Linked DNA regions of Homo sapiens: regions 1 and 3 are each linked to region 2. Evidence: fine-mapped expression QTL. A gene starts in region 2. Each other region holds a variant in brackets. All regions are shown on one strand. Distances are between the middles of the regions. Region 1 holds the start of LOC105374352 (a long non-coding RNA gene). Region 2 holds the start of ZFYVE28 (zinc finger FYVE-type containing 28). Region 3 overlaps ZFYVE28 (zinc finger FYVE-type containing 28).

Evidence for each region. PIP is the estimated chance that this variant, and not a neighbour inherited with it, causes the effect.
Region 1: its variant is fine-mapped to the expression of ZFYVE28 in thyroid (GTEx, PIP above 0.99).
Region 3: its variant is fine-mapped to the expression of ZFYVE28 in lung (TOPMed, PIP above 0.99).

The regions. Positions count from the first base shown.
Region 1 is chr4:2,347,795-2,355,972 of GRCh38, reverse strand. It overlaps ZFYVE28 (zinc finger FYVE-type containing 28), which reads left to right. Exons shown (of 13, transcript NM_020972.3): 2 at 1,900-2,040. LOC105374352 (a long non-coding RNA gene) reads left to right here and starts at 4,470. Exons shown (of 2, transcript XR_925056.3): 1 at 4,470-8,178. The variant G/A (reference allele first, on the strand shown) is at 4,391.
Region 2 is chr4:2,415,028-2,423,205 of GRCh38, reverse strand. It overlaps ZFYVE28 (zinc finger FYVE-type containing 28), which reads left to right and starts at 4,561. Exons shown (of 13, transcript NM_020972.3): 1 at 4,561-4,921. The coding sequence starts at 4,883. CFAP99 (cilia and flagella associated protein 99) reads right to left here and starts at 4,251. Exons shown (of 16, transcript NM_001193282.4): 1 at 4,113-4,251. RefSeq lists enhancers at 1-451, 5,842-6,400, 6,401-6,959 and silencers at 4,037-4,086, 4,327-4,556, 4,677-4,836.
Region 3 is chr4:2,329,109-2,337,286 of GRCh38, reverse strand. It overlaps ZFYVE28 (zinc finger FYVE-type containing 28), which reads left to right. Exons shown (of 13, transcript NM_020972.3): 6 at 1,493-1,582. Among named protein-coding and RNA genes, the nearest start is that of MXD4, 71 kb to the right of the region's middle. RefSeq lists enhancers at 2,368-3,165, 3,584-3,643, 3,166-3,963, 3,894-3,973, 3,964-4,761 and 2 more. The variant G/A (reference allele first, on the strand shown) is at 3,618.

The DNA.
Region 1 (8,178 bases), 67 kb after region 2:
CAGCGCATTCGAACTGTGCGCGATTTGGTATATTCTCCTCTCCTCTGTCTTTCTCTCTGTGATTATAAAGAGTCCTTTTTATAAAAATAGGTTCAGGCCAGGCACAGTGACTCACTTCTATAATCTCCGCAACTTTGGGAGGCCAAGGTGGGAGGATGGCTTCAGGCCAGGAGTTCAAGACCAGGCTGGGCAACACAGGGAGACCCCATCTCTAGAAAAAATTTAAAATTAGCTGAATATAGTGATGTGTGCCTATAGTCTCAGCTACTTGGGAGGCTGAGGCAGGAGGATCTCTTGAGCCCAGGAGGCGGAGGTTGCAGTGAGCCATGCTCATGCCACTGTACTCCAGCCTGGGCAACAGAGTGAGACCCTGTCTCAAAAAATACGTATATAGGCTGGGCACAGTGGCTCAGGCCTGTAATCCCAGCACTTTGGAAGGCTGAGGCGGGTGGATCACGAGGTCAGGAGTTTGAGAGCAGCCTGGCCAACATAGTAAAACCCCATCTCTACAGAAAATACAAAAATTGGCCGGGCGTGGTGATGGATGCCTATAATCCCAGCTATTCGGGAGGCTGAGGCAGGAGAATCGCTTGAACCCAGGAGGCAGAGGTTGCAGTCAACTAAGATCACGCCACTGCACTCCAGCCTGGGCGACAGAGTGAGACTCTGTCTCAAAAAAAAAAAAAAAAAGAAGAATCATTATATATATATATATATATATATATATATATATATATATATATATATATATATATATATATATATATATATATTTTCAAGGACTTCATCACTTTTGTAAGGGGCTTCTTTGAATCCTCGAAACTCTGATCCAGGGGAACAAGCTGTTTGCATCCTGGGGCAGTGGGAACCTCACGTGCCAAGGGACGGTGGCCGTGCTGTGTGCGTAGAGCACCAAGGAGGCCAGGCGGGGTTGGGGCGTGTGGTGGTTGCAGTTGAAGACCAGCTTCTGAGCCCCTGCGTGTTTGGTGGGAGGGGAACCTCTGAGCGTAGAGTTTCCTGCCACAGTGCACTGGTGTGGAAACTGAGATGCTGTGAAGTTCCTAGAGAAGTGGGGGGTGTGTGGCAAATTGTTTCTGAATCATGGGAAATGGTTTATGATGCACTGTCAATCATTCTTCACTTAAGTGTAGTAAATTTTATTGTTATTCTGGGCCACTTCATATTTTGGTTTTGTGAATAAAAAAATATTTCCTGGCCGGGCACAGTGGCTCATGTTTGTAATCCCAGCACTTTGGGAGGCTGAGGCGCGTGGATCACCTGAGGTCAGGAGTTCGAGACTAGCCTGGCCAATATGGCGAAACCCCGTCTCTACTAAAAATACAAAAATTATCCAGGCATGACAGCGGGCACCTATAATCCCAGTTACTGGGGAGGCTGAGACAGTAGAATCGCTTGAACCCAGGAGGCGGAGGTTGCAGTGAGTTGGGATCGTGCCATTGCACTCCAGCCTGTGCAACAAGAGTGAAACTCCATCTCAAAAAAAAAAAAAAAAAAAAAATTTCCTGAGAGCTGCTTTTGTCGCCTGGAGCGCCGGGGACCCCACTCTTCCCAGAGCCCCTTTTCTGTGGGCTCTCCACCAGAGGGAGCGTGAGGACCTTGTGTCTGGGGTGCAGCAAAGGATCTGGATTCCCCACAGTCCTGGGGTGAAATGCAGGGGCCCTGGGGACCCTTGAATCAGGGGTTGAGCTGGCAGCCTGAGCCTCAGCTTTAGTTGTTTCCCTCTAGATCCTGGTGTGGAAAGCTGATAAAAGAGCCGGCTGCTGCTCAGGGTGGAAGGTCCCAGGCTGAGCCCACACATGGCCTGGGGACAAGGCAACCAACCGAGGCATCCCCTCCAGTTCCCCACCCACTCATGGCCCTGGCCCCTCTCTCCTGCAGAGGTCGGATCCGCAGCTGCTTGCCCGGTTCTACTATGCCGACGAGGAGCTGAACCAGGTGGCCGCGGAGCTGGACAGCCTGGATGGGCGGAAGGACCCCCAGCGGTGCACGCTGCTGGTCAGCCAGTTCCGCTCCTGTCAGGTGAGCCACGGGGCAGCAGAAGCTGGCTGGCCCCGCTGGGCATTGGACAGAGTGGCCTGTCCTCAGTAGACCAAGGCTTTGTCACCTGCTGGCCCCCTGTGGTGGCGTTGTCAGGGTCGGGTGCTAGAGAAGCCAGGCCCAGGAAGAGGGACCATCCCGGGCAGGATGCGTGGGGTGGGTAGCCGGGCTGGAAGTGAGAAACCGCACGGGACACTTGGGGGAGCAGAGGCTGGGAGAGCGGGGGCAGGGGGTGCGGAGTGAGCAGGCTTCTGAGCCAAGGGGCAGCCAGTGTGGGAGGGGTGGGCCTGCCCAGGTGCTGGTGCAGAGCTTGGGTACCATGCAGTGGTCACACTCTGCCACTGACTAATGGTGCTGCCAGCATCTGCTGCATAATTGACAGATGGCCCTGGAAGCTGCCGCTAAAAATACCCTGGCCGAGGTTTTCTTCCCAGTACACCAAGCACTCAGAGGCATTTCCAACACAACGGCAAACGGCATGCTGCAAAGTTTTATCAAGTGATGACGAGGGGTTTTCACAAAGTTCCGGAATGTTCTTGGTGTACTCTTCCCACAGGGTCTTGCTGAATCCTTGCGGCCATGGGAGGTGGGGCCTGACACATGCTCCTCCAACAGGGGGGAGTCTATCACTGTGTCACCGTGGTCCTGAGGGTCCCACCCTGTGGGGCTCCTGCAAAGTGGCCAAGCTGGCTGCACCCCAGCCCTGGCTCTGGGCCTGGCCCTGCTGCGGTGGGAACTCAGCAGCATTAGGGCCCTGTGTGTGGCCAGGACAACTTTTCTGGCCGGATCAGGCTCTGGGCTCTTTTTTGGGCTGTTCAGTGGCAGCCTCCACCTTCCATGTGTTCAGATGTTCCCACAGATGTTCTGGCCCCTCCAGGGACAGCCTCTGTGGGTGGGGAGAGTCCCTGCCCCCAGGAGCTCAGGTTAGAAAGACCTTCTGCCCAGGGGACAGGTGCTGGGGGCCCTGGAGCCTGGAGGAGGAAAGTGCCACGGAGGAGAGGTGCTAGACCTGCCCCGTGGCCCCACCGATGAGGAAGGGGGATCAGATGCTATTCCTCATGGCAACCTTTGGGGAGGGGCTCTGTTCCCTTTACATGCTCTGTGACCTGTGTGCTTTTTTGTTGACTGACAGAGTTGATGATAAAGCCTGGTTTTAAGTGAGTTTGAGAGGTGGGGGCTGCCAAGCTAGGTGGCCCCTTCTCAGGCTTCCCGCTGCCACAGGCTTTAATTGGGATGTATCACCGTGAGAACTGCCCTGTGAGAAGGATCTGGAGGGGGATGCTCCCAGCATAGTGAAGGCCTTAAACACTCAGGTTCTTCTCCTTGCTGCTGGGGTCTTTGAAGGAACTGAGAGGGTGTGGACACTGTCCAGGTCCCTCAGCATCATCTGATTCGGGCTCACTTCTGTCCACTCCGCTCCAGGGCCCTGCCTCTGGCTCATCTCGTATCCCACTGGCTCCTTTGTGACCCTTCTTCCCTCTTCCACGCCTCCCCCTCTTCCTCCCTCCTCCTATCTCCCCTTCCTCCCCCAGCCTCCTCCATGTGGGTCCCACGCCCAGTCCTTGGCCTCTTCCTGTCCACCCCCCGACATGGCGGCCTCATCCTGCTCCATGTCTGTGCTGAGCACCCCCAGGGGAGGCTCTCAGCTTCTCCTCCCCGCAGATCCAGGTGTGCTCCCCGGTGTTCCTCCCAGCTCCCTGAGGGCATCTCACAGGGCCCACCTTACGCCCAGCACAGCTGGACATTGAACAACATGGTTTGAACTGCACAGGTCCATTTATACATGCATTGTTTCAACCTAACTTGGATCTAAAATACAGTATTCTCAGGACACAAAACCCACATATATGGAGGGCTGTGCAAGTTCCGCTGGTCCAGCCGTGGGACTTGAGTATGTGCAGATATGATATACGCTGGGGGTCCTGGAACCTGTCCCCTGCGTGTACTGAGGGATAATTGTATTTCATGTCTTTTTATGACATTATAAGTGGTATTGCTATTACATGTCAATTTTTAAAAATAAGCCAGAACCATAAACGAAGTGTTTCCCTGAGTTCTGCGAGCCACTCTACAAATTAATCCAACCCCAGAAGGGGGCCATGGGAGCCCCAGTTTACAGCCAGCTGGACAGAAGCACAGACCATGCCTGGACTTGGGATCAGCATCTGAAGGGGCGCCGTCTTGTGGGACTGAGCCCTCACCCTGTGGGGTCTCACTCTCTCGCCCAGGCTGGAGTGCAGTCATACGATCTCGGCTCACTGCAACCTCCACCTCCCAGGTTCAAGCGATTCTCCTGCCTTAGCCTCCTGAGTAGCTGGGATTACAGGCATGC[G/A]CCACCATGCCCTGCTAATTTTTGTATTTTTAGTAGAGACGGGGTTTCACCATGTTGGCCAGGCTGGTCTCAAACTCCTGAACTCAAGTGATCCACCTGCCCTGGCCTCCCAAAGTTCTGGGATTACGGGCATGAGTCACCGTGCCTGGCCCTAAATGTCAATTTTTGATTGTTTGGTGCTCCTATATGGAAATACTATTGACTTTTGTATATAGATCTTGTATCCTAATACCTTTCTGTGGGAATCTAGGTAATGGTTTTTCCTACTTTCTACTCTCTACTCTCACACAGTCACTCAACACTCCATGACCAGATGAGTAGGGTATTCCCCACACACCGAGTCATTCCCCAGCAGGTTCTGCAGGGGACAGCAGTGGGGGTCCTCTATTCAACCTCATCTTGACACTGTCCACCCGGAGTGACCTCAGAACCCACAGGGTGAGGGCTCAGTCCCACAAGACGGCCCCCCATTCAGATGCCAATCCCAAGTCCAGGTGTGGTCTGTGCTTCTGTCCAGCTGGCTATAAATCGGGGCTCCCATGACCCCCTTCTGGGTTGGATAAATTTGTAGAGTGGCTCACAGAACTCAGGGAAACACTTCGTTTATGGTTCTGGCTTATGAATAAAGAATGTAGTAACAGGTACAGATGAACAGCCTGATGAAGAGGTGCACAGGCTAAGGTCGGGAAGGGTCCCAAGGGCAGGAGCTTCTGTCCCGTGGAGTTGGGGTGTGCCCTTCTCCTGGCAGGCGGATGTGTTCGCCAGCCCAAAGGAAGCTTTCTGAACCAGTCCTTTTGGGTGTTTTTGGAAGCTTCATTATAGAGCCATGATTGATTATATATCATTGGCTGTTGGTGAGAACACTTCCCAATTCTTCAGTGCCTCTCCCCTCCCCGGAGGTTGGGGGTGGGGGCTGAAAGTCCCAACCCTCTAACATGCGTTGATCTTCCCAGGGACCAGCCCCCCATCCTGAAGCTGTCTAGGGCCCCCCAGCCACCAGTGAACTCCTATCACTCTGGAGAGTCCAAGGCTTTTTAGGAGCTGTATGTCAGGAAATGGGAAGATGACCAAACGTATATTTTACAATATCATACTTTCTTTCTTTCTTTTTTTTTTTTTGAGACGGAGTCTCGCTCTGTCGCCCAGGCTGGAGTGCAGTGGCGCGATCTCGGCTCAGTCCAAGTTCCGCCTCCCAGGTTCACACCATTCTCCTGCCTCAGCCTCCCGAGTAGCTGGGACTACAGGCGCCCGCCACCTCGCCCGGCTAATTTTTTGTATTTTTAGTAGAGATGGGGTTTCACCATGTTAGCCAGGATGGTCTCGATCTCCTGACCTCGTGATCCACCTGCCTCGGCCTCCCAAAGTGCTGGGATTACAGGCGTGAGCCACTGCGCCCGGCCTACAATATCATACTTTCTAAATACACTTATTATTTCTGGCAGCTTTTTGTAGATTCTGTTAAATTTTTTGCCAATAAAGATAATCTTCACTTCTTCCTTTTCTCTCTGGATGCCGAGTGTGTGTGTGTGTGTGTGTGTGTGTGTGTGTCTGTGTGTCACCCTATTGAACTAGCTAGAATTCCAGTACAAAGTTGAATAGAAGTGGTGAGAGCAGACATCTTTTGTTAATGATGGAACTCTGAATGCTTTCTCCCCAAAGATAAGCGTGATGTTAGCTGTAGGATTTTCGTAGCTACCCTTTGTCAGGCCAAGGCAGTTGCCACCTACTCATAGCTTGCTGAGAGTTCTTATTAGGAATAGATGTTAGATTTTTTTTTTCAGATGCTTTTTTTGTGTGTCAACGGAGATTATCATGTTATTTTTATTATGGTAAATTACATTGATGGTTTTTTTTACTCGATAAATACTGACTTTTTATTAGTATCCACTCCATCACTCAACAGCAATAGCAGCATGCAGATGCCATGAGGGCAGGGCTGTGTGTACACACAACACTCACCAGTACATCCCAGTGCCTAGTACACAGTAGGCACTCAGTTATATCATTGAAACAGGGAACGCTTGGCTGATTCATTTACATTTTAATTTATTTTATTTTTTTTATTATTATACTTTAAGTTTTAGGGTACATGTGCACAATGTGCAGGTTAGTTACATATGTATACATGTCCCATGCTGGTGCGCTGCACCCACTAACTCATCATCTAGCATTAGGTATATCTCCCAATTCTATCCCTCCCCCCTCCCCCCACCCCACAACAGTCCCCAGAGTGTGATGTTCCCCTTCCTGTGTCCATATGTTCTCATTGTTCAATTCCCACCTATGAGTGAGAATATGCGGTGTTTGCATATTTTCTTTTTGAATAGTGTGACTTACTCTTTTTGGCATATGATAGCTATGGTATCACATAAACAATTGTAAACTGTGTCGAGCTGCCAAAAGTTTGAATCTCATGCCAGTATATACATTCAGCCTTCTCACCATAGCTATTTGAGAGTTATAATTATCTATAGCACTGAAAGAGACTTTGGGCTCATCTGGTCCGATTCTCTTATTTCATGAATTAGAACACTAAATCCACTCAGACTGGGTGACTCGTCTGTCAGAACATGCAATAAACAGAAAACAAGGGGTTGTTTGCCTGATGCCATAGCATCCAAAGGTCAGGGTAGCTGGAACTCTTGGTGTCTTCTTGTCTTACAAAATGATGGAAGACGCATCATTTTAGTTCTCTGGTAGAAAGAGGATCAGAGAACCAGCTGGGAATCACAAATATGCTACAAAGATAAAAGACAGAATTTGGCCCTAAATAAAAATAGATTCTTAAAAATAGAGAAGAGATCAGATATGTTGCTAAGAAAATGCAGATGTTAGACCATATCCATGGTTCACAGTCCTTGTGAAAGCTTAAAAAATATAGATGCCAGGACCCAATCCCAGAGATTCTGCCTTATTTGGTCCAGGAAGAGCATAAGCATACATTGATTGATTTTTGAATGTTAAAAAAAATTACTCCTGCATTCCTGGGATAAATCCCACTCGTTCATGGTACATTATCCTTTTACGCATTATTGAATTCAGTTTCCTAAAATTTTGTTAGGAATTTTTGGATCAATATTCATTAGGGATATGGGCCCACAGTCTTTGTCTGATTTTGGTGTCAAGACAGTGTCATAGATGAGTTGTGAAGGATTCTGTCCTCTTCAGTTTTATGGAAGAGTTTGTGTAGTGTTAGTTCTTCTTAAATGTTTGGTAGAATTCACTATTAATCTATCTGGAACTGGAGTTTTCTTTGTAGGAAGATTTTTAACTACAAATTTAATTTCTTGAATAAATATAGGGTTTTCACATTATTTCAGAAATTTCTTCTTGAGAGAGATTTGGTAGTTTATGCCTTTTAAGAAATTTCATCTAAGTTGTTGAATTTATTGGCATAAGTTGTTTGTAATATTTCCTTATAATCCTTTTAATATATGTAGGATCCACCGCGATGTCACCTCTCTCGTTCCTGTTATTAAGTTGTATCTTCTGTTTTCATTCTGAACTGTGTTGATAGAGTTTTATCAATTTTACTGATATTCTCAAAGGAACTATTTTAGCTTCATTGATTTTCTCTATTGCTTTAATCTTTTCTCTTTCATTAAATTTCTGCTCTGATTGTTGCTATTCCTTTCTTCTGTTTGCTTTGGGTTTCATTTACTCTTCTCTCTCTAGTTTCTTTTTTTATTTTTATGTAGTAGACTTAAAAACAGAACCTTTATAGTTTCTTAATGTGGCAACTGAGGTTAGAGAATGAATGCCTTTCTTCTTTTCTAATTTAGGTATTT
Region 2 (8,178 bases):
GGGGGCAATAGGCTGCTGGCAGCAGGAAGCACTTTTCTGGGGCATTGCTCTTTGGGGAGGGGGGACTTGTGGCTTTCACTCCAGGCATTGCTGAGAGCAGTGGGGGCTCCCTGTAGGCAGTGAGCTCACAGCTCACAAATCCCACTCCCCATCTTCGCCAGGGTCAGCCACACTGAGACGTTTTTTAAAACTCCACAGCGTAACTGGGGACTTCTCTACAAAAAAATTAAAGAATGACTCAGGTGTGGTGGCACGCCTGTAGTCCTAGCTCCTTGGGGGGCTGAGGTGGGAGGATCCCTTGAGCCCAGGAGGTTGAAGGTGCTTTGGGCTATGTCTGTGCTACCACACTCTAGGCTGGGTGACACATTGAGATCCTGTCTAATAAATAAATGTAAAGGTCTACTTCTAGAGAAACAATGTTAAAGAGTGAGTTTTCTTGCCCTGCCTCCACGTCACGTTGTGGGTCAGGCTGCCCTGGGATGGGGTCCCCTTGCCCCAGCCTTTTTGAATCTGCTCTGGATACAGCTCTGCCTGGAGGAACAGGGTATACACCCAGGAAAAGGGCCCCTTCTTGCGCCTGGTGGGGGCGGTGAGAGTGGATGGTCTGCATGTGTGTGGTGGGAGCTGCTGCCAAGGTGGAACAGTTTCCCTGCCGTCTCCCCCTGTCCTGGAGCTGGAGCATTCTGGAGAAAGGATGATCCTAGGTACCCTTTGGTGATGCAAATCGAGGAGGAGGAAGAGGGCCATGCCAAGCCCGCCCCCCAATCCAGGGCGGACCTGGTAGGAATGAACTGGAAGGAATAAATGGACAAACCAAGTTGAAGATGGGGACGGGGGTGAAGAGCTCCTTTGGAGTCCAGCCTGACTCAAATTGTCCTGCCCTGCCCCTGGAACCCTGGTTCACTGTCCGGCCTGAAGGTCCCTGGGGCGGGGCCTCTGCACCCCTGAATCTGGCGCAGAGCAGGTGTATGTGAAGGTGAATGTAAGGAAAAGAGATGCTTGAATTCTGAATCCCACTGAAATTAGCCTAGGAACTTCATCAAAACAATCACCTCTTTGGGGAGGAAATAGGTACTAAAATTCATCCAACTGTGACGCCTGCTTTCAGCATCTCAGCTACATTCATGCATTCTCAAATTCTCAGCCTGATTTTATTTTTTTCCTGATTTAGGGTCTCACTCTGTCACCCAGGCTGGAGTGCAGTGGCTCGATGATAACTCACTGCAGCTCAAGTGATCCTCCTGCCTCAGCCTCCGGGGTAGCTGGGACTCTAGGCATGTACTACCACGCCCGACTAATTTTGTGCTTAATTTTTTTTTTTTTTTTGTAGAGACAGGGGTCTTACTATGTTGCCCAGGCTGGTCTTGAACTCCTGGCCTGAAGCGATCCTCCCACCTGAGCATTCCAAAGTTCAGCTTTAATAGTGAAGTACCATCTATGTGGGAAGTGGGATTTAATTCTCAAGTTTAAAGATTTTTTTCTCATATTGATTTTAACTCCATTGATCAGGACTTGACTATCTTATATTTAAGGCAACTTTAAAGGTGGGCTGGACTAGGCTGGGCGCGGTGGCTCATGCCTGTAATCCCAGCACTTTGGGAAGCCAAGGCGGGCAGATCACTTGAGATCAGGAGTTCCAGACCAGTCAACATGGTGAAAACCCATCTCTACTAAAAATACAAAAATTAGCCAGGCGTGGTGGCAGGTGCCTGTAATACCAGCTACTTGGGAGGCTGAGGCAGAGAATTGCTTGAACCCGGGAGGCAGAGGTCGCAGTGAGCTGAGATCGTGCCTCTGCACTCCAGCCTGGGCGACAGAGCGAGACGCCATCTCAAAAAAAAAAAAAAAAAAAAAAGGGTGGGCAGACTAAAGCTTCTCTTTCCTTAGGAAATATTTTATAGACACAAATGAGATTATATGAGGAGGTTTAAATTCCATCAGACACAAAACAGCTCAACACTCTCAACCACTAGGAGATAACTCATTTACCTAAGATCTCAAATGTATGTTAATTAAAATATAGTCTTTTCTCCCGATTAAAGCCAGTCTCCTAAGGGTTGCTACCAAGTCATGCCCCTATGGCTTGTGCTTAAAGCACAACCCCACGTGGCAGCTTTTGCTAGTTGCTTTTCAATCTCCACTACCCCTTTCCTCCCAAATAAGAAAACTCTGATTTTTAGCTGGGTCTACTGCTGCCCAATTGAAAGATGGCATTTCCCAGCCTCCCTGGCAGCTGGGGCATGGTTGTGTGGCTAAGTTCTCCCACCACCTTCAAGAAGTGGAAAGGTGTGAGACTTCTGGAAAGTCTCCCTGAACGAGAGAGGCATATCCATCTTCTCTTTTGCAGCTGGTTCCTGGGCCGAGGAGGTGATGGCAGGAATGTGGGCAGCCATCCTGGATCATGAAGAAACGTGAATGGCAGATAGAAAAGCTGATCCTTGAGGACTTTAGGGCTGCCATACCAACCACGATTGCCTCTCCATGGACCTCTTTTATAAAAATATGAGTAATATTCTTGTTTAGGCCACTGTGATGTTGGGATTTTTCAATACATGCAGCTAAACCTAACTGATACCCCACTTCCCCAAGTTCAGCCTTCATCCCATGCACAATTTCAAACTATAAAACACAGGAAGGGAGCCTCTGAGCAGATACAACTGCTCCAGGCCTTGGAGTTGGCCAAGGATAGACCCACAGAGAACAGCCATTCACTCAGTGGACAAGCCCATCAAGTGTCTACCCCAAGATCCTGTGCTGAAGAAATGATGGCTTTGGGAGCAGCAGGTTTTATGGGGGAAGACTGAGAGTGTGGTTTGGGACACGTTAAATTTGAGAGGATCTGTTAGGCGTCCAAATGGTGAAGAACAGGTAAACAGGTCTGGAGTTTCAGGGTTGAGGCTAGAGATATAGGTTTTGAGAAGTTTGGGAGAAAATGGTTGTTTATAAAACCATGTAACTGTAGGAAATCCCCCAGGGAGGGAGTGGATAGAGTAGGTTCCAAGGACTGAGTCCAGGGTCTCCAGTGTTGAGAGGTCGGTGAGCAGGGGAGGCATCCAGCCAAGGAGATCAAGCAGGAGTGGCCAGGAGCGAGGAGGAGAAGTGGACAGTGGGATCTGTTTCAGCCAAGTGAGGATGCTGTGTCACGGAGAGGGCACAGTCGGCTGGGTCACGTGGTAGTGACAGTTCAAGGAAGAGATGAGCGCTGACCCCGATCATCGGATTTTGCAACATCAAGGTCAAGGATGACTTTGATAAAGAGCTTCAGAGGAGTGGTTGGGTGAAAATCTGATGGGAGTAGTTTCCAGAAAGAACAAGTGGGAAGGAATTGGAGATAAGGGGAAACTCCAGAGGGGTTTTGCCCTTCAGAGGGTCGACTGGGTGGTAGGAAGAGGAGAGTAGGGAAAATCAATCAGTTACTCAAAAATAAACATGGACCCTACCCCCAACTAAGAGAAATCTTAGATGCCAGCGCGCCTAGGCTCACATCGCGTCTGTTGGAATAAAGTGGTCATGGAGCCCACGGACCTTTCTGAGCACCTGGCACTGGCCAGTGAGGACAAGCAGGAACAGGTCAGACTTCTCAATTCTGAACCGAGGGGGGCATGACTTCCATCTCCTGTGTCTTACATCTGCACGTTTCACAACAAGCCAGAGACGTGGTGGTGGTGCGGCAGGGAAAAGTGCAGCGCTGTGGGGTCAGGCCGACCCAGATCCGCCGTGATCTGGATGCAACCCCCACAGCCAGGGCACGCCGGCCTCGTTGTGCCTGCTTCTCTGGCTGTCAATGGGAAGTTTAAGTGAGGCCACGTGTGGGTTTTTAGCTCTCTGCTTGACACATAGCAGGTACTCAGATTGAGGTGAGCGTTTTAAGGTACAAATTAGGGCACCACTGGGGGGAGTAGCGAGGGCGGAAGAGTATCTTTTTAGAACGCACCGCTGATAGTGGTGATTTAAAAAAAAAAAAAGAGGCACCGTTCACTTTCATCGGGGAGCTGGGAAGAAGACAGAAGAGGTGTTTGGGAGAAGCAAGATGAGCAGCGAGCGAGAGGGAACCGGCCGGCAGGTCATGAAAATCGGCGGCGCGTCGCCCCGCACCTGTCCCGCCCCCGTACCTGGCGGGCGCTCGGGGCAGCCGAGCCCTCCTGCCGCCGCCACCTGCCACCGCAGCAGTTTCCTGGGCCAGCTGGGGCTAAGGTGTTGGCAGTCGTCGTCCGTCAGCTCCCGGTAGGCAGGACGCCGCGGCTGTTTGGCGTCGTCACCTAGCAACCGGCGGCACGCTCCGCCGCCATCGGGTGGACTACAACTCCCACAATACACAGCGCCGCGGCGCGGCCCGGGACGCCAAGCCCTGGGCGCCACCTCCCCGCCATGCCTTTCGGGACTTGTAGTTTCTTGGATACCCGGGCGCGGCGGGTCGCCCCGCCGGCAGGGAGCGCGCCTCGGGCGGGGTGCGGCGCCCGCGCAGGGATTGGGCCGCCTCCGCCCCGCCCGCCCCGCCCGCAGCGCGCGGTGGGCCCGGGGCTCGCGGCGCCCTAGGCGCATGTGCGGCGCGGGGCGGCCGTGACCAGCGGAGCGCTGGGTGTCAGTGAGCAGCGAGGAGCCGCGCGCCCCCGTGCCCGCGTCTGTCCGTGCGCCCGAGCGCCCACTCCCGGGTCTGAGGTCTGCCCGGCGCGCCGCTTGCAGAGCATACTCAGGGCCGCGCACCTGCCCCGCGCACCTGCCCGCCGCCCGCTCGGCGCTCCGGGCTTCGCTAGCCAGCCTCCCTGCGACAGCGCGGGGGCTCCGGCCGTGCCTCCGCGTCCGCCCCGCGCCTCAGCCGGGCCCGGGCGCAGCGCTGCGGAGGGCGAGGGCCGCCCGGAGTCCGGCCAGGGCCGGCGCGGCGATGATGAACAGGTTCCGAAAGTGGCTCTACAAACCCAAGGTGAGCGGCCCCGCTCGGGCCGGACGCCCCCCGCGTCGCGGCCTCTCCCTTCCCCAGGACCGCCCGTCCGCCCTACAAGACGGACTCCCTTTCCCTGTCCGTGGCCGGCCTCTTCCCCCACCGCCGACATCCTTCCCTCCACTCCAAGACTTGGACAGATCTTCATCGCCCTGTCTCTGAGGCGGATCCGAACCTCCCTCCCGGCTTCCTAAGCCCGGGTCCAGGACTGACCCTCCTGCTCCTCCTCTCGGGCCGGGGCGCACTTTCCCTCCCCCTCTATCCAGGGCCACAACGGGCCCCTCTCCCTCCTCATCCCGGTCCTGGACGGTGCCCTCCTACACTTCGTGGTCCCCAGCCCGCGGGCCCGGAGCAGACCCCCTACTACTTCTCCGTCTCCCCTCCCTGCACCAGGAATGCCCCCTCATTCCCGTCCTGCCCCCACCCCCATTGTCCTGGGCCCGGAATAGATCTCCCTCCGCACTCCAGAACAGACCCTCTCCCCACTTCCCCAGGTTCTGAGAGAACCCACATTTCCCAATCCCTGGGTCCAGGGCAGACCCGTCCTTCCATGTCCAGAGAGGATCCTGATGGCCCTGCCAACGGCCTCCCTTCCCGAACCAGGACTGACCCACACCTCGGCCCAGTTCGCGTCCCCTCCCTTGTCCCTATCCTTGTCCCTTCCCCACCCACGTCCTCTGGAATCCGGGACAGGTCCTCCGCCCGGCCCTTGGGGCGAGCGCGCCCGTGGCCAGCAGCCTCGGCGGGGCGGGAGGTGCGGCTCTCCAGCCGGCGCCCGCGCCTCTCCTAGCGCCGCGGGGTCGGGGTCCGGGCGGCGCGCCCCGTGCCTCAGCGGCTGCGCCAGTCGCACTGCGGGCGCTGCGTCCCCGCCGCCCGCCTGGGGCTCGTGCCCGCTGCAGCCGGAGCAGGGCCGGGCGCGCTCGGCGCGGGATGAAGGCGCGGCGGTGTTCAGGATCCCGGCGCAGGGTCCAGGGCGCATCTGGGCGTCCGAGGGTGGCACCCTGGGGCCGGCGCAGCGGGGAGGCCCGGGCCCTGAGATCTTGGGGGAGGTCACGGCTCGGGTGGGGTCACCGCGGCGACCAAGGGCGGGAGTGGGGCCAGCGCTTCGTCCGGGCAGCTCGGACGTCCGAGGCCACCGCGTTGCCGACCTACCCCTCCTCCCTCCACTGGCCGCCTTTCTCCGTCCAGCGTCCCAGGCCTCCGCCTCCACCGTGGGTGAGCTGTCACGGCAGAGGTTTCCTGAAATCCGTGCCTCGCGTGCGCCCATTCCAGGAAGGCGGGAGGTGGGTTTGGAAGATCGGCACGGAGGTTTGAGGGCTCACTCAGGGCCCCGAAGGGCGCGTGCTTCACGGCCTTTGAGGTCGGGGAATTCTGTTTGTCGTTGCCGGAGTGTTGGGTTGAGGGCTTACGGTACATGGGGCGCCCCTTGCTCGGCCTTGGCTTGATTGGGAGGGGACTCGGGGGGATTCAGGGTTCCTGTGGCGTCACTCCCTGCTCCCAACCTCCCTGTCCCTAGCAGCGACTTCTTAAGGGTTCGTCCCGAGCCTTGCGTTTCCTGGCGCTGGGTGTGGTTTGGGGCCGAGCCGTCTGCGCCCAGCCTCTCCTCCTGCGGCGCCTTCGAGCCCCTCTCGGTCCTGCCTGCTGCCCCCATGTGCCTCTGCCGGGGTAGGGCGGTGGCCTCCGCTCTGGATAGCTGTATGAATGGTGTTTGGTTCCAGTGACTTTTCCTCACCAGTTACTGAAAACCAAGTCTGCTTGTAAAACGGCGTTTTGGGGGCGTGCAGCAGCATTATTTTCTGTGACAAATGGCGGGAGGCAGCTGGAGAAATGTGTCTTAGGTCTTAACTAACATTCTGGTGTCGCTGAAGGCACTTGCTGGGACACTAGGGGATGCCCCTCCGGACGTGGCTGTGGAAGAGGCCGCATTTGGGGGATCACCCTTCTAATCGTGTTGAAAAGGAAGGAAAAATAATTGTAGACTCTGTTTCATGAGTAGCTGAGTAATTTCAGGATGGCCTTGTCTGTTTCCGTTTAGGGAAGACAGGTTAAAGGTAGAACATGGTACTAGACGTTGTCCTGAGAATTAGGAATTGCGTTCCCAACTTTTCCTCTTCAGCAGGCAGCTGCCTTTCCAGGCAGGCGGCGGGCACCAAGAGGGCACAGCCAGTGAATCAGCTGATCCCAGGGATCAGCCCAGAGCTGTGTGCCTCCGGAGAAGGGATGGAACAGGATTGATGTGGATCTCTCCTTTTTCTCGTTGTCTTCTCCTGGCATGCTGTCTGGTAGTAGCTCCAGAGCTCTGGACTTGAGACGTATCTCCATTTCAGATCTGTCTCTGGCCATAGCATTTTTCTGGGAGCTGGTGCCCTGTGGGCAGTCTGAACTTGGGCTGTCTCTTATTTGAGAAATGTCTTTGGAGTTAAATATCTTGATTGTTTGAAGGGTCGGAGTATGTTATGTCACTCCATAGCTTTTCATTTTTCAAACCAAAGCTCAGATTCTTGCCTTGGATTATGAATTGAATTTTATGCTTCCCCTTCCTGTCTAATTTAACACATTTTGGCACAAATAAGCACAAAGTCAGTCCTGGGAAGATTCTGGGCCTGGAAGAGTTGAAGTGTTAAACATTAGCTGTGGGAGGATGTGTCTGGGGGAGACTGTTGCCTGCAGTCAGGAATTTTTTTCCCACTTTGTATTTAGATAGATGTACAATTCAAACTGAATTTTTAATTGAATTCCTGCTTTGGTTTAAAACTGCACAGCGAGCTTCTTTTTATAAATTTTTAAGTGTGTGTGTGTGTGTGTGTGTGTGTGTAGAGACAGGGTCTCACTATGTTGCCCCGGCTGGACTCAAATTCCTGGCCTCAAGCAATCCTCCTGCCTCAGCCTCCCGAAGCACTGGGATTACAGGTGTGAGCCACTGTGCTTGGCCAGCACTGAGCTTCTTGTTCATCACAATATGGTGGAAAATATTCTGAAATGAAAATATTATTCACTGTTCTTATAGTTATAAAAAGCAATTGGAAATGCTGAAAAATATTCCTGTGTGACATACATTTTGATATCTGAATAAAAATTAGCTACTACGTTAGCTACCTAAGTTGAGTAAAAGAATGCCTGATGAATAATACAAAAGTTTAACATTAAAATGACATTTGCAAATTATATTTCTATTCACTTTCTTAATCAGTCTTTTAAACACCAATATGATTTTTCTTGGTATAAAGTGTTCAGATCTT
Region 3 (8,178 bases), 86 kb after region 2:
AAGGCACCAGACGTGTCTTCCCACACTACATCCGGCTTCTCCTCACAGGTGGGCAGAGGGTAGAGGCCACCCCTGCCTTTACCTCTGCCCGGCCCCCTTCCACCGCCCCACGGTCGCTTTTCTGTCTGCCAGAAGGTCAGATCCTGCAGGTGAAGTCACTGTCAGAGGACAAAAGCTGGAAGGCTCTGGCATGATGGATTGGACGTCCAAACCTTGTCACCTTCCTCACCCCCTCACTCCTCACCTACTCACTCCTCATGTCCTCACTCCTCACCTCCTCACTTCCCCACCTCCTAACTCCTCACCTCCTCACTCCTCACCACCTAACTCCTCACCCCCTCACTCCTCACCTCCTCACTCACCTCCTCACTTCCCCACCTCCTAACTCCTCACCTCACCTCCTCACTCTTCACCTCCTCCCTCCTCACCTTCTCACTCCTCACCTCCTCACTCCTCACCTCCTCAATCCACACCTCCTCACCTCCTCATCTCCTCACTCCTCACCTCCTCACCTCCTCACTCCTCACCTCATCATTCCTCACCTCCTTACTCCTCACCTCCTTACTCCTTAGCTCCTTATTTCTCACATTCTCACTCCTCACCTCCTCAATCCTCACATCCTCACTCCTCAATCCTCACTCCCCACCTCCCCAGTCCAGGAATGAGTTTTTGCTGAGTTTTAAGTCTGTTGAACAAGTGTTTCTTTTTTAGGGAGTGGGGGGGGCAGGGGGAAGCCATCAATATTCTTATCAGGCTTTGTACAGTAATTTGGAGTCTGGTTTTCTCAATGGACTTTGGGGTTAAGATGTAACCTTGATGTTTCTCTTGTTCAAGTGGTACTATGGTGTTTGGAAGATTTGAAATTGACTATTATCACATTGTATGTTTGTTATTTTTAAAAAGCAAATTTTTACTCTTTGTGCTTTGAGAGATATTTCAAATTATCAGAAAATAAGATGACGGGAAATTCCTTTTATTTTGAAAAGTCACGATGCCAGCAGGCCTGCTCACGAGGTGCAGGAAAAGCCCTCCACAAGCCCCGGGGAGGAGAAAGGAAGCTGGTTTCTCAGGGAAGTGTTGAATTGTTTGGGGCAGTATTTTTGTTCCGTGTTCATTCTTGACACCGGAGTTGTTTCGGTCTCCTGGCTGAGCAGAGCCGTCCTCTGGGTTGCCTTACTGTCTTTGCTGGGCATCATAGCTGTCCTCACACATCCTCCCTGCCCCTGCCTCCTGGGGCAGAGGTGGGGACTGGCAGATGGGAAGGTCAAGCTGGAGCCACCTGCCAGGGCATTTAGGGAAGTGTGTGGCCTTTTCCTGCAGTCCCAGCCCCTTGCACATATGAGGACTGGGGGTGGCATGTGTCACCTCTTGACGTGGCCACCACGCGTGGCTGCAGGTACAGATTGAGCGCACTGCCTGTCCCTGCTGGGGTCCAACCTGTGGCTGTGGTGGGCCAGCCCTCATGCTGCTCACTGTCCGTCTCCCCGGACAGGGCCCTGGACTTCGGGTACCTGACTCAGGACATGATTGATGACTACGAGCCGGCCCTCATGTTCAGCATCCCCAGGCTGGCCATCGTGTGGTGAGTGCCTCCTGTGCCCAGGACCTCTGCAGAAACCTGCGGGACGGGCAGGGCTGATGGTGCCAGGTCCCGTGCGGGTGCCGGTCCATGGCGTCTCCACCTCACGGTGGCCGCTCAGCTGTCCCGATCAGTGACAGGCAGGCCTGCTGTCAGCCCTCAGCAGACCAGGGGACCACGTGTCCTGAGTGCCCCCTGTTCACCTTGCTGGTGAGGGAGGCTCTGTCACCCTAGATAGGGCAAGGTGGCCTAACACCTGCCACCTGCCACTGGACAGGTGAGATCCACAGGTGAGCTCATTAGTCACAGGAGACCATGAGGGTCACACAGGGGTCATGCTCGGAACAGAGTGGCCACGCAGGGGCTGTGGGAGGCAGACTTGGTGGTAACAAGAGGACGAGCTGCCCCCCGGGTCCCTCAGGAGGCTGTGATTGGCTTGTTTGAATAATTTGGGGGCTGGCAGGGAGGTGAAGCACATTGGGTTGAAGGGCAGGTGGGGGCAGTTGGTCTGGCTGATGGAATACCTGTGTGGAACCTTTCCTGCCAGCGGGGCCGTCTGGGAGAGCAGGGAACTCAAGGCAGCCTGTAGGGTCCTGTGGGGCTCAAGGACGTGAACACAGCACATGGAAGCTCAGGCCTGAAATCCACCGAGGCAGGATGCGCGGGGTCACCTGCTTAGCGTCTCTGAGCTGTCTGGGGCCAAGGTTAGAGCCCAGGGGTCAGGCTGCTCATCCACACCCTGACTCCAGACGGGGATTCCCCATGCCCCTGCCAGGCGGATGGTCACGGGGGCGGAGGAGTGAGTGGACCACAGAGAGCTTAGTGGAGCTTGCAGCTGGGGGGGAGGCGGAAGTGGGGAGGGGGAAGAGGGGAGGGGGAAGAGGGGAGGGGGAAGAGGGGAGGGGGAAGAGGGGAGGGGGAAGAGGGGAGGCGGAAGTGGGGAGGGGGAAGGGGAGGGGGAAGGGGGAGGGTCCAGTGGGCAGCGGCCAGCAGGTGTGGGACTGGGCAGAGTAGGGGATGGGGAGCCCTTGAGAGAGATGCCCGTGGAGATGTGGATGTCAGTGAAGTGGTCGGGGAGTGGGGGGTGGGCACAGAGGCCACGACTGGTCCAGGCTCAGGCTGGAGAGACCTCACTGAGGCCATGCTGAGGAGCCCCAGGGGACCCCGGGGCACAGGCACACGTGGCAGTGCACTGGGGTTGAGCATGGATACCCCTCCCGTGGGAAATGGGGGTGCAGAGGTGGGAGCACGCGGGGCGGTGGCAGTGCAGTGGGCTAGGGCCAGCGGCGGGGCCTGCAGGGGACAGAAGTGCTTAACCCCAGGATGCGCCGAACACCCCTTGTTGGAGTGGGGAGCAATGGGGGCTGCTGCCGGGGCCAGTCTGGACACCCCTGGGCCAGGCCGCTCACTCCCCTAGGTCCTGGTGCCACCTCCTCCGGGAGGGCTCCAGCGTGGTCTCTATCTGCTGGGCCCTGGCTCCCCAGAGTCCCCTCCAATAGCTCAGGGCCTGGCCTGTTTCCTGCGCCGTCCTTCCCGTGTCCTCGCAGAGGTTGCGTCTTTCACAAAGTTAGCAAACCAGAGAGAGTGAGCCTCACATCGCGCCAGAGGGAGGCTCGGAAATCCTCCTGCCGTTAGACTCAGGGAACTTCCTTTCACCTGAAGACCTCAGGGCTGGAGGGCAGGGTGTCCCCAGTGGCCAGCGACAAGGTGGCTTGGAGGGAAGTGTCCTGGCGGGGAGAGGCCACCCCAGAGCACAGAGCGCCCCTTCCCATGGGCCACAGGATTTGGTGACATTGTTTTTCTTTTCTAGACAAGTGTCTCTCTGTGGCCAAACTCACTTGAAGAAAATGACAGGCAGTTTTGGTCCTTATTCTTCTCTTTGTTTAAAAAACAGAACAGCAAAGATCCTGCGAGCCGGCCTTGTTTCCACCAGGGCGCAGGGCGCTGTGAGCCTTTGCCTCAGGTACAGGTGTCTCCTTGTCCCAAGGGCACTCACAGCAAATGAACAGCTCTGCTGTCCTTGTAAAAAGTTCTCCGC[G/A]AGTGCTTTGAGGTGTGGCACCAAGCCACCCGCCCACTCATGCCCGTGTCAATGAGCCGGTGAGCCCTGGCTGGACTTCCTCTTAAAGGTCGGGCCTGGAGTGTGCAGGTGACCCCAGGTGACCCTCCCCGCAGGCCGCACCCCAGGCATACTGTGTTTCGGGACTTTCACACTGAGTCTGCTGCCCGTGTTTGCCCGAGTACAGGCGACCGCAGAACAGCAGCCACTTCCCCCAACCAGTATCATCTGTGTCCTGCTTGCCGACCTCAGTCCACCTGCTGGTGGCCAAACCTCTGCTCCTCCTTCTGTCCTAGGCTTTCATCCTGGGAGGCAAGGGGAGGCGGGGGCTGGGGGATCAGGGTAGGGGAGGCCAGAGGAGGGAGGTGGGGGGGCAGCTTGGGGAGGGAGGTGGGGGAGTGTGGGGGGTCAGGGAAGGGCAGCAGGGGGGGTCAGGGAAGGGCAGCAGGGGAGGCCAGTGCTGCGGGGGAGGCCAAGGGAGGGAGGTTGGGGAGGGAGGCTGGAGCTTCTGTTGGCAGAGGCTTTGTCCCGCGGGTCCCCTCCTGGAGGCACTGGCGTGGGGTCCCCTCGGGCTCAGGACAGTGGGAGAGCCTGGAAAGGGAGTGAGGGACCCCCAGGAGGTGAAGGGGGCTTGGATTGAAGGAGGGAGGAAGGGCGAGAGGGCATAAGAGCCCAAAGCCAGAGTCCAGGGAGCAGGCCTGTCCAGGGGGGTGGCCAGCTGTGAGCCCCCACAGAGGCAGGCATCTAGCCACAGAGCCAGGCTGTGGATACGAGGAACCGTGGGGTGCACCAGGCTGCCACTGCAACCCTCTGTGCAGCGAGCCTCGAGCAGGGCGGGTGAGTGCTGAGCGGGTGAGTGCTGAGTGGGCAGCTGTTCCTAAGGCCGCCCCTCTGGGATGCTCACTGGGGCCCTGCAGCCCTGCACCACCAGCGGATCCCGTCTTGTTCCTCGTCATCCACAGCGACCGCTTTGAGCCGGACAGGCAGAGGCCACAGCTGCCCGTGGTGGGGCCCAGAACCTGCTCCTTCCTGTGTTCATTCAGTGAGCAAGTATTGAGTGCCTACTGCATACCTCGCCCTGTGCTTGTACCAGGGAGATGGACAGATGGGCTGACCCACAGTGCTGTGGAATGTTCTGGATGCTGGAAGGGGGACTCAGTGCAGGGACCCCATGGGGTGGACAGGAGCTGAAGGCGTGAGGGAGAGGCTCCCCAGGGCAGCCGGCCCAGAGGTGGGAGCTGTGCAGGTGGCAGGCAGGGGCACGTTGGTGCAGGTGGTGTATGCTCAGGGGCAAGTCCAGGGCTCGAGCAAGGACCAGGGGGCCGCAGGAACTTCTGCAGAAATGAAGACCCCTCTAGCCTGCATTCCTGGGCCCACACCCTCGCAGGATCCTGCCTCTGTGAAGTGGGCATCCTGGGACCCCCCAGGTGACCCCCAGGGAACACTGAGAGCAGAGGGGAGGCAGGGGTGCTGAGCGGGGCAGGAGCTGAGGGTGGAGCTCCTCTGTGGCTCCTGCCCGTGACTGTGCTGCTGCCCGAGAGCCCCAGTCCCTTCTCCAGCACACAGTGTCAGAACAGTGATGCCACATTTACCAAGCATGAGCTGCGGGCCAGGCTCCCGTCCCCTTCTGAGGGGCTCCCAGTGGCGAAGGCACCGCTGGGGGTCAACAGCTGGAGGCGGCAGAACCAAGCCCACCCGAGGGTCAGAGCCTGCTATTCACCTGTGACACAAGAAAGCAGAAAACTCTAGTTCTGTGGCTGGCAGAGGAGGCCTGCCTGGGGCAGAGGCAGTGGTAAACTGAGGCCTTCAGATTGGCAGGGGGAGGTGGAAGGGAGTGCTGGGTGGCACCCTTCCCCCTGTTTAGGGTGTCCCCAGCCTGGTGGGGTCTGGCCTTACCAGGCAGTGAGGACAAAAACTGGGGGTCACCCCTGTGGGGACTTGCTCTGAGCCGTAGGGGAGGGGCCCCACTTGCCCTGCACCCCTCAGCCTGTCCCCTCCCTAAGACCTGCATCCAGTCAGTCCCTCCTGCTGATTGAGACACGCGTCCTGGGGAGAGTGTCTCCACGAGGCTCAGACTCTTTGACAAACTGGTTTTACTTTTGGGGATTTATCTTAAAACAGTTTCTTTTTTTTGTTTTTAACTTTTTATTTTTATTTTTTAATTAAAAAAAAAATAGAGACAGGGTCTTGCTGTGTTGTCCAGGCTGGTCTCGAGTTCCCGGGCTCTAGCAATCTGCCTGCCTTGGTCTCCTAAAGTGCTAGGATTACAGGCATGAGGTACCGTGCCCAGCCCCGGCCTTAAAACAGTTCCTTTAAAGGAAGAAATGAAATAAAACCTCTAGACCCAGTGGTCACTTCCCAGTCCCCATCAGCACAGACCTGCCTGCCCGCCTCGCTGCGGCTTCGCCCGTCTGCACTCACAGCTGTGTGTGTGCGACGCTTCCCAGACCGGACCTGTGCAGAACCCAGGCCCCTCTCCTCTACCCCTCCCTCCCTTCCTCCCCAGCCCCTCCTTCCAGCCCATCCCAGAATCTACCCCTCCCTCCCTCCCCAGCCCCCTCCTTCCAGCCCATCCCAGCGTCTACCCCTGCCTTCCTCCCCAGCCCCCTCCTTCCAGCCCATCCCAGAACACGTGCAGGAGCCACCGCCCACGTGGCCTGCAGGATGGTTGCCGGATCCTCTTCAGGGGCCCTCACCCATCCACCTGTGTCAAAACAAGGTGTCATCTCTGCCCTGCTCAGACCCTTGCCGGAGCTCCCACCGTGATCTGCCTGCACCGTGCCCACACCAGTCCTCTCTCCCCAGTCCCCACGCACCCGCTGCCCTGGGTCTCCACCATGCTGTCCCCTTCGCTCAGGGTCCCCTTGACTGTCCTATCCCTACTGCCACACTGTCCCCTCCCCCGCACTGTCCCCTTTTCCATGATGTTTCCTCCTCCACGCTGTCCCCTCTGCTCCAGTGTCCTCTTGGCCATGCTGTCCTCTCCATGGTGCTGGCCCCTCCACTACACTGTCCCCTCCTCTATGCTGTCCCCTTGTCTATGCTGTTCCCTCCTCTATGCTATCCCATTCTCCATGCTATCCCATTCTCCATGCTGTCCCCTCCTCCATGCTGTCCCTTCCTCTGCAATGTCCTCTCCCCTGTGCTCCTCTGCACTGTCCCCTCCTCCATGCTGTCCCCTCCTTTATGATGTTCCCTCCTCCGTGCTGTCCCCTCCATGATGTCCCCTCTTCCGTGCTGTCCTCTCCTCTGCACTGTCCCCTACTCCCTGCTGTACCTCCCTCTGCGATGTCCCCACCACTGCACCGCTCACCCAAGCCCTCTCCCACCAGCAGGTTGCGTGACTTACTCTGTTATTTATTTTTCCATGTTACTGAGATAAAATTCATTACCCTATGACTCACCCATCTACAGTGCACAGTCGTTTTTGGTACATTCAGAATTGTGCAGCCATCACCACAAATTTCATAACATTTTCATTACTCACAAAGATGTCTCTTACTCCTGAGCGGTCACCTCCACCCCCTATTATCCTTCATCCTGCCCCTTAACCCTAGGGAACCACAAATCTATTTTCTGTTTCTATAGATTTGGCTATTGGGTTATTCATATAAATGGGATTTCTGTTATTTTTGTGTCTCCCCCACTAGACTATAACTCTTATTCACGGATGCATCCTGAGTGCCTGTCATGTCATAGTGTGGTGGACTTTTGCAGAATTTTGTTGCATTGATCTGAGGGGGCACAAATATATATCCACAAAGATTATCCCCGAAGTATTACTTGTAATCATAAAAATTTGAGAAGGGATGGATATCCAGAATTAAGGGATTGGTTAAAAACAATACTGTAGCCATTTAAATAATGATGGAGAAAAATCTCCTAATGCTATGCAAAAACATCCCCAGTGTATTAAGCACAAAAACTGTTATCAAATAGTATGTCTCTATTTTACAGAGTTTCTTAACATTGATAGGTAAAACTTTTGTAAACAGAAATTAAAGCAATAAACATTCTTCTTTATTGTGGTAAAATATACATAACAAAATTGGCCATTTTGACCCTTTCTTAGGGTTTTAATGGCAAAAATTGCAATTACTTTTGCACCAACCTAATATATAGGATTTACCCTTTTGTGACTGTCTTATTTCACTTCACATAATGTTTTCAAGTTTCCCCCATGTTGTAGCATGTGTCAGAATTTCCTACCTTTTTAAGGCTGAATAATATTCCATTGGATGTAATTAGCTGTTATTTTAAATAAGAAATGTGTGATAACATTCAAAAGAGTAAAATGCCTAGGAATAAATTTAATCAAGAAGGTGAAAGGCATGGATGCTGAAAACTAAAAAACGTTGCTGAAAAAATTAAAGACATAATTAAAGAGAAAGACATTCCATGTTCATGGATGGGAAGACTTAATATAGTTAGAATGGCAATACTCCATAAAGTGATCTACAGATTCTGTGCAATTGCTGTCGAAACTCCATTGGCCTTTTTGTTTTGCAGAAATGGAAAAGGTGTTCTAAAATTCATGTGGAAC